3 separate regions of the Homo sapiens genome follow, and all the other regions are linked to region 1. Evidence: fine-mapped QTL for protein levels in blood plasma. A gene starts in region 1. Each other region holds a variant in brackets. All regions are shown on one strand. Distances are from middle to middle. Region 1 holds the start of CHL1 (cell adhesion molecule L1 like). Region 2 overlaps CHL1 (cell adhesion molecule L1 like). Region 3 has its middle 24 kb from the start of CHL1.

Evidence for each region. A credible set is the group of variants that fine-mapping cannot tell apart. PIP is the chance, under the fine-mapping model, that this variant and not a neighbour inherited with it causes the effect. The UK Biobank Pharma Proteomics Project read protein levels with antibody pairs (Olink). The fine-mapping took linkage between variants from a reference panel, not from the people measured, so its PIPs are less certain.
Region 2: its variant is the best candidate, but not a certain one, in a credible set for the plasma level of the CHL1 protein (UK Biobank, PIP 0.85).
Region 3: its variant is the best candidate, but not a certain one, in a credible set for the plasma level of the CHL1 protein (UK Biobank, PIP 0.52).

What each region holds. Positions count from the first base shown.
Region 1 is chr3:195,536-198,301 of GRCh38, forward strand. CHL1 (cell adhesion molecule L1 like) reads left to right here and starts at 1,228. Exons shown (of 28, transcript NM_006614.4): 1 at 1,228-1,528. It overlaps CHL1-AS2 (CHL1 antisense RNA 2), which reads right to left and starts at 1,806. Exons shown (of 4, transcript NR_144487.1): 1 at 1,432-1,806; 2 at 921-973; 3 at 461-505; 4 at 223-379.
Region 2 is chr3:216,188-218,953 of GRCh38, forward strand. All of the region lies in intron 1 of CHL1 (cell adhesion molecule L1 like), which reads left to right. Among named protein-coding and RNA genes, the nearest start is that of CHL1-AS2, 20 kb to the left of the region's middle. The variant T/A (reference allele first, on the strand shown) is at 1,655.
Region 3 is chr3:170,898-173,663 of GRCh38, forward strand. No RefSeq gene overlaps it. Among named protein-coding and RNA genes, the nearest start is that of CHL1, 24 kb to the right of the region's middle. The variant G/C (reference allele first, on the strand shown) is at 1,352.

The sequences.
Region 1 (2,766 bases):
TAATATTCTATCTTTGTTTCTACTTTAGAAAACATGCCACGTGAATAATGATGCCTCAGGCAAAAGAAATCACTCCAGCAGTACAATTTAAACTTAGGACAAATCCTGCCCTCACTTGCATTCACAATTTGCCAAGGCAGTTGGTAAGAACTGTGCCCACACACAAATTGACAGAATCGAGGCCCCAAGGTTAGCGATGATTAAAATTTAAAAGTCCATTCATTCATTTTCAAAATATTTTATTCGATTGCTTCTGAGGCAGAATCATGAGTTGCCTTCGCTTTTGCTGCTCCCGGTGGTGGCATCCAACTCTGAGGATAGCTCATCCAACTCTGAGGGTAGCTCTGAGGGGAGCTAAATATCCTCATTGTTCAATGAGCTAGATGAAAACAAAACGAGGCTGTAAGGTCAATCTCACAGCCTTAGTGGAGTAAAAATTAGAAGTCAATAATTCTCTTACCAACAAAGAGGACTTGCATTCAACAGGATTTTCAAAAGTGGTATCCTGTAAAAATTTTGGAAAATACCACCATAATGGAAAAAAAATAAAGTGGCATATAAATCAAATGTAGTGCTAAAAATTATAATTTTTCCATATGAATTTTGGAATCCTAAAATATTTTTATGTGTTTGTGGATTCATAAGGCATCAGAACTGGCTTTTTGCACTGAATATGAGTACAGAAGGCTTTCCTCTCCAATAGTGAATTAATAAAGGATAAGTAGGAAAAACGTTACGAAACGATGTGGTAACATTATAGACTCTGTATTAGGGCAAAAATTGTGAGATAGTAGAAGATCTGTAAATTTAAGCATGCACAATTTGACAGCGGATGGTCGTAGCATATTTTGTAAATTCAATAGCAAGCCCCACCACGCCCTTAAATGAAGGAAAGCAAGAAGACAATTTTTAATACGTACATGGCACCACACCCCTCTAAGACGCAGCAATGGGAGAAAAGCAGATTGGCGACCTGTGTGTGCAACATGAACCGAGTGAAACCATCGGGGAGGGGGTGGGGGGCGTTTCTTTTAAATGTCGCTTTTGCAGATAAACGAGCAGGGATCCTACCTCTTTTGACCGGAGATGTTGAAAAGCACGACCAAAGTTTTTGGCTTGGTCTCTTGCTTTCCACAACGAGATAAAGTCTGAAGCCTGTAACTCTCCCTGTCCCGCGGGAGCGTGCAAAGGGAGGGAAGATAAGCGGCGTGGGTGAGGGGTGGCGGCGCAGAACCCAGGAAGGGAGCAGAGGCGAGAGCCAGCCTCCGGCAGGAGGGCGTAGACCCCGGTGCCAGCCAGAACGGCTCCAGCCTTCCCGCGGCCAGAGAGCCAGCGGCGGGAGGGGACGGGCGGGACCTCCGCGGACAGCCCCGGGTGCGGACCAGCGGGCAGCGGCCGGCGAGACCCTCCCTGGATCCGCCCAGAGCTTACCGGACCCTGCGCGCCCCCGTCCCGGCTCCCGGCCGGCTCGGGGGAGAAGGCGCCCGAGGGGAGGCGCCGGACAGATCGCGTTTCGGAGGCGGCGCAGGTGTGTCAGGGGTGGGGGTCCGCTGGCATCTCTCGTGCCGGCGCTGGGGGGGTCTCCCGTGGAGGAAGGGCTGAAGGTGCTCCGGGAGGGGTCCACTCGTTATGGAAAGGAAGCGGGGCGCGGTCAGGGTCCCTCGTCCGCAGTGGGGGTGGTCCGGGCCCCTCAGCCTGCACCCGGGAGGAGACGCCCCCTTTTCACGCCCCGCCCCCGGTGGCCGAGGCCGGATTCGGACAGCTCGGGGTCAGTCGACGGAGCACACCGGGCGCCCGAATCCGCCGGGTCCCACTCACGCCCGCCGGCCGCCGGTAGGTTGGCCCTCCCGCTTCCAGCCTCCGCCACCCCATCCCTCGCTGCTCTCTGAGGAGGATTCCAGACCCCCCCGTAGATCTCCGCCCTCTCTCGGGTGGGGCTCCGAGGTCTAGCTGGTCTGGGGGTCAGTCCCGGCCTCTGTCTCCCACCGCGCCCCTCGCTCCCCTGGACACCGCCTGGTGTGTGGGGCTCAGACCCCCCCAGTCCACTGCCCCTGTGTGGCTCCTCCTCTCAGGAGAGGATTCTAGATCCCAGCCCGGGGGGGGTTCCGAAAATGCCGCCAGCCTGGAGCGGGGAATCCATGGACCGTGGGGTTGTGGGGTTGGGGAGCACGAAAACCCAGAGAGGGGCTAGAGCTCCACCTCCCCAGACCGCCGAGGGGCGAGAGGGCGCGCCGGGGGCCGTGGTTGCCATGGCTCCTGGTAGCGGAGCCCGGGGGGCTGGAGATGCCGGTCGCGGATGGTCCCTTCTTCCTCTTTGTGCCTCTCTCTTTCTCTCGCTTTTTTTTTTTTTTTGGAGTGTGAGTGTGCGTGGGGAGGCAGCACGGAGAAAGTGATTAATTTGGGGAGCAGGGATTGGAGCCGGGAGGCTGGGGAAAGCCAGCCCCTCCGTTCCCACTCTCCGGGCTCGCTGCGAGCCACAGTGTCTCAGCCAGGGGCAGGGCCGGGGAACTCCTGCGAAAAACCACGGGCCGGAGGAGCAGCAGCCGCGCGGGCCCAGGTACCCCCGCCCCAGACGGCCAGCAGGGTGGAGCGCAGGGTGGGCGTTTGGGCTGCTGGGCGGGAAGGCGGGCGGGGAAGGGGTGGGAGGCCGGCGGCGGAGGGCAGGTGTGCGTCGGCAGGGCTGGGTGGCCCGGCAGAGAGGGCGCCCCAGGTTCAGCCCCTCCTCGAAGGGCGCCGGCGTCCAGTCCCGCTCGTGGGAGCCGCGGA
Region 2 (2,766 bases), 21 kb after region 1:
TGGCACAATTTTAAATTGAAGTGCTATGGGGGATATTGTCTTACTGGTATTTGCAGTTTGGGCTCAAAAAACCAGAAACTATATCTTTAAGGGTGTTTAACAGAATAATTCTAAATATTATAGTTTTCTCTTTCCTTTTTGTTGTCCTGTGATTTTAACTTTGACATTCTTATGTGACAATTGAAAAAGTCTCTTCACTTTTGTGTATTCTTTCTAATGTGATCAGGAGAATTAAAATGAACATTTTCTTTCATAAAGCTGAGAGTTAATTCTGAAACGTTGTACCAGAATACTTTTATGAATGAAAGACTAGCCTTTGAACCCTAGGAGAGTCAACTCTACACCAACCCTGTCTATTAAAAAAAGTCTGTGCTTACAGATGTCTTGTGTGAGATGTGGCTTTACCAAAAGTATCTGAACTTCAAATTTCTCCTATCACTGCCAACTACCCATGGGTATTGGCAATATATTTGGTAGACTTATTTCTTCTGTAGGCATATGATGCCATGGCCAAAGTGAACTCTACATTTTTAAGAGAGGCTGCTAAATATGGCCAATCACAACAGAAAACTAGCATTTCTCCAATTTGGCAGTGGTTTCTGGATGGCACACCCAGACTTACTTCCTTAAGCAATGCTGATATATGGAAATGCCATGATAGAGGCTCAGAAGCTAACACTGAATTCAGCAGTGCAGAAAAACTCCAAATCATGTGGTTCTTCTTTGTCAATATTTTCACTAAGGCAGCATAAGATATTAAATCACCTGGAATTAGTTATGTGCCATTTCAGCAACCTTTTGTGCTCAGTCTGCTACAAGCTGCTTGTGCTGATTAGCAGTTTAAAAGTCTGCAGGGGAAGGAAATTTTCAGTAGCTTGATTTTCCCCCACCCTTTGGTCCTGTGTGCATTGGGGAAGAAATTACCTTCTGTGCAATTCCTGAATAATTTGGTTTGATTATTAATAGATTCATGCTGAAAAAAGAACAATAACAGAAAAAAAATTACCCATGGGGTTGCAGCTGTGCTCCCAGATACAAAACAGGGAAAGAAAACAGGTCTCTCCAAGCAAAGGGTATATGTGTATACGTGTGTGTGCATGTGTAGCTCTGATTCTAAGAAGCCATTGGTTCATTTATTCATGCATCAAATATTTATTGAGCTGCGAACAAATCCCAGGCACTGTGAGGAAGACAGATTTCCTGCCCTCCCAGAGTTGCCATTACTAAGAATGTTAGCCAATAAATAAATCTTTACGGGAAAGAAACAAAGGACTGTGATAGAAAAAAATGGGAGGAGAAACTTACTTTAGAAAGGATTATCTGAGAAGGTGCCTTTCACGCTGAGCCAGAAAGGGAAGAAGGCAAACAGGAAAAGAGCCAGAAGAGCAGAGTTCCCAGCAGAGGGGAAGCAAGTGGAGAGGCGGTGTGGAGGAATCAATTTGGCCCCATCTGGAATGGACAGAAGGCTAGAACCTGCAGTGCAGTGAGTGTGGGAGAAACCAGCTGGCACAAGGTGAGCTTAGGGCAGATCACATAAGGCCTTGTAGGTCATGGACAACAATATGGATTTAAGTGCAGTATAGGAACTTCAAAGGAATTCCAACAGTTAAGCTAGTTGATGTAATTTGTGTCTATATGTATATATATTTATATA[T/A]ACAAACAAAACAAACCTTGGCTGTTGCATGCAGAGTAGATTGCAATGGAGAGGAGGACCAGTTGGTATTCCGCAAGGGAGATAAGAACAGCTTAGGCTTGAATGAGGATGTGATAAAGGGGATTTTATGAGCAAGGCTGTTTTATTATTTTATTTATTGTACTTCTATTAAGATGATATGGGTGCTTTGGGGGCTGTTGTAAATTATAACCCACAGCCCCTGCACAGGAAACCTCCACAGGAAACAATCAAAGAATAAGTGGTTGTGAGATGACAAGGTTTACGATACGTGTTTTCAGGCTTCTTAATAGCAGAGTGATTGGGTGATTTCCAAAAGACCTCAGGGCTGGGATGGGTGAAATTTTGTGAGCTTCTGGATTGGATGAGGGTGTGCTCTTGCAGAAAGAATTCCTGAATACTTTCTGCACTGACAGAACCTGCTTATTAATTCTTACAGCAGTTATGTTTTAGAAGATGAAAGACCCTTTCCATTCAATTATTGATCATAAGCATGATGTGTGTTGATTAAAATGGCATGATAATGGTATCAAATGGAGTTTGGATATCTTTTTCCTTAATATACTTTTGTGTATCATATTTAAGTTTCCTCAAGTCAGTAGAGAAGATGTTACCCACATCCTCTTTTCCAAAGAAGGAATCATTTGATCATTGAAAGGTTTACTGAATAGAAAATAAATTATGTTGACTTTAGCACAAATTCCTGCCCTAAGTTTTAGCCCATATATTGATGATGTCAAGTGCTGCTAAATGTGTTCTTCTTCTATAAAAATTAAAGTTTAAGCTTTGGATGCTAACTTTCAAATCTATGTGAAATGATATGATTTATTGTGATATAAAGAATGACATAAAGAACAAAATAATACTTTTTTAAATTTATGAGGAAAAAGACAACAGAAAGGAAAAATGGGCAAAGAAAGAGAACACGTTTCATGCAAATCAAAACCACAATGAGATACCATTTCGCACCGGTCAGAATGGTTATAATTGAAAAGTCAAAAAGTAGGCCGGGCGCACTGGCTCACACCTGTAATCCCAGCACTTTGGGAGGCCAAGACGGGCGGATCACGAGGTCAGGAGATCGAGACCGTCCT
Region 3 (2,766 bases), 25 kb before region 1:
AGATTCAAATGTTAACCTATAAAGAACTGGTAGTTTTAGGATATTTTCCTCCCTTTTTGAAGAACATTGCACACTTTCCCTGGCTGTAAGGGTAGAATGTGAACTAGGCTGGGCTAATTGTATATAAAATCTGCCTTAAGTGTAGATAGTGTCAGCAATAAGAATTTGAACCACAATCAGATCAATCAGGGATTTCCCAAATTTTCTAATGGACTTAGCAAAAAGCCTAATGGACTTACTCTCATCTTTAAAATATGAACAATAATACATCCACTTCATAAAATTGCTTTGATTAGTAAAAGAGTATTAAAGAACTTGGAAATGTCCTGGCATGAAGTAATTTCTTATAGCTGAATACCTGCTGTTATTTTATTGGTATTACTATTGGTATCATCTTTTTTCATGGGTTGCTAAGATGGGAGAATATGGGTCTGTAGCTGAATATGGGTCTCTCGTCTTCTCACCTATTGCATGGGGAATGTCTGAACAAACAATGATAGCAAGCAAAAAAATATATATATATTTAAATATATATATAAAATTAGGAATGAAGAAAGAGACTGTAGCCAACAGATACTGCTGGTGCCTGTGGATCCAACCATGCCCAAAGGCCAGAACATACTATTGGAATCTCCAAATATATGATACAATAAATTTCCATTAAAATAGTGTGAGCCGAATTTTTTGTTATTTGCAATACAAATAGTATGATTGAATAATCTTTCCACTATACCATGTAGCCATCAAATGAGGAATTCCCTGGTAAAATTAATTAATTTGAATGACAAATTTGATCTTCAAGACTGAATTTTTCTGCATGTACATGTGTGGTATTTCTTTTGGGAGAATTATCCAAATAATTTTTTTTTTTTTTTTGAGATGGAGTCTCGTTCTGTCGCCCAGGCTGGAGGGCAGTGGCCCGATCTCGGCTCACTGCAAGCTCCGCCTCCTGGGTTCAAGTGATTCTCCTGCCTCAGCCTCCTGAGTAGCTGGGACTACAGGGGTGTGCCACCACATCTGGCTATTTTTTTGTATTTTTGGTAGAGATGGGGTTTCTTTCTTTCTTTCTTTCTTTCTTTCTTTCTTTCTTTCTTTCTTTCTTTCTTTCTTTCTTTCTTTCTTTTTTTTTTTTGAGACTGATTCTCGCTCTTGTTGCCCAGGCTGGAGTGCAATGGCACGATCTCGGCTCACTGCAACCTCTGCCTACTGGGTCCAAGCAATTCTCCTGCCTCAGTCTCCCAAGTAGCTGGGATTACAGGTGCCCACCACCACACCCAGCTAATTTTTGTATTGTTAGTAGAGACAGGGTTTCACCATACTGGCCAGGCTGGTCTTAAACACCTGACCTTGT[G/C]ATCTGCCTGCTTCAGCCTCCCAAAGTTCTGGGATTACAGGCGTGAGCCACCCCGCCTGGCCGATCATTTCTTAATTAAATGCTTGACCCTGTCTGCATAGCCATAATGAATTAAGAATGGAAATGATGCTGAAATAGAAGAAAATTTGGAATCATTACTATTGTTCCACCTAATTAGGACACTCATAACGACCAATGAAGAATCTGCAGTGATTTCATTAGAATGATTTGATATTCTAGATGTCCACACTCAGTGTAAACAAAGGAAACAGGAGCTTCTTTGCAAAAACACGCATAGGGGAGTAAGAAAGATACATAATTGCAAGTCTTAATATCTCTGGTCTAAGGATGAGGACGTAAGAGAGCTTTGGGTGTAAAATTATGATTTTTGTCTTCTGCATATTGCATAGCTTGGAATATTAAACAGTTGAAAATAAACTTTCATTTTACCTTTAGTTATTTGAGAATTTTAGAATAAAGTAAGTATGTTGAGAAGCTTCCTATGTGAACAATTTTCTTAATAATTTCTTCATAAAGTTTGCTATATTTTAGCTTGAATTTATGTTCATGAGAGGTATAAAAAATATTTACTATAAGTAATTTATATGTCAACAATACACCTTGTTTCACTTAGCATTCATACATGTTATGAATCTTTCGTTCAAACTTAATTTTACCAGGTAAATATATAAGAGATCTTTAAATAGTAATATTTATATTCCATATCTTTATTCAAGAATAATATTTTGCTCAACATACATATTTGTGTAATGCCAAAAATTTATTCTCCAAACATCTCTCATAATAATGCTTAATATGTAATACAATGTAATACTCAATATAAGACAGTCTCTAATAATCAATACTTAATATAATCCACAACAATAATAATCTGTTGGTGCCTGTACTATAAAAAGGTAATACTTAGAAAAGGTCAGTTAGCTAAATTTTCTCCAAAATTACAAAGTATTTGAAAATTAATTATTACAATATTACATGTCATAAAGTAAGTAAATAGCTATTTTTTCTAGTGATTTTTATTTTATTAAATAAGTGTGTATATACATATAACTGTGTATATTATATATATACATATATACACTTTATATACCTATACTTATTGGATTTATATACCTATATACTTACAGATATATAAAGTATATACTTATGTGTATATATGTATATATTTATATGTATGTACTTATGTGTATATCTGTATATATTTATATGTATATACTTATATACTTATTTATATTTATAAATAAGTGTGTGTATATATATATATACCTTATAAGTGTGTGTGTGTATATATACATACACCTCTATATATACATACACCTCTATATATAGAGAGAGAAAGGTGTATATATACTTATTAGGTATATGTATATACTACTTTTGTGGGTATATCTATA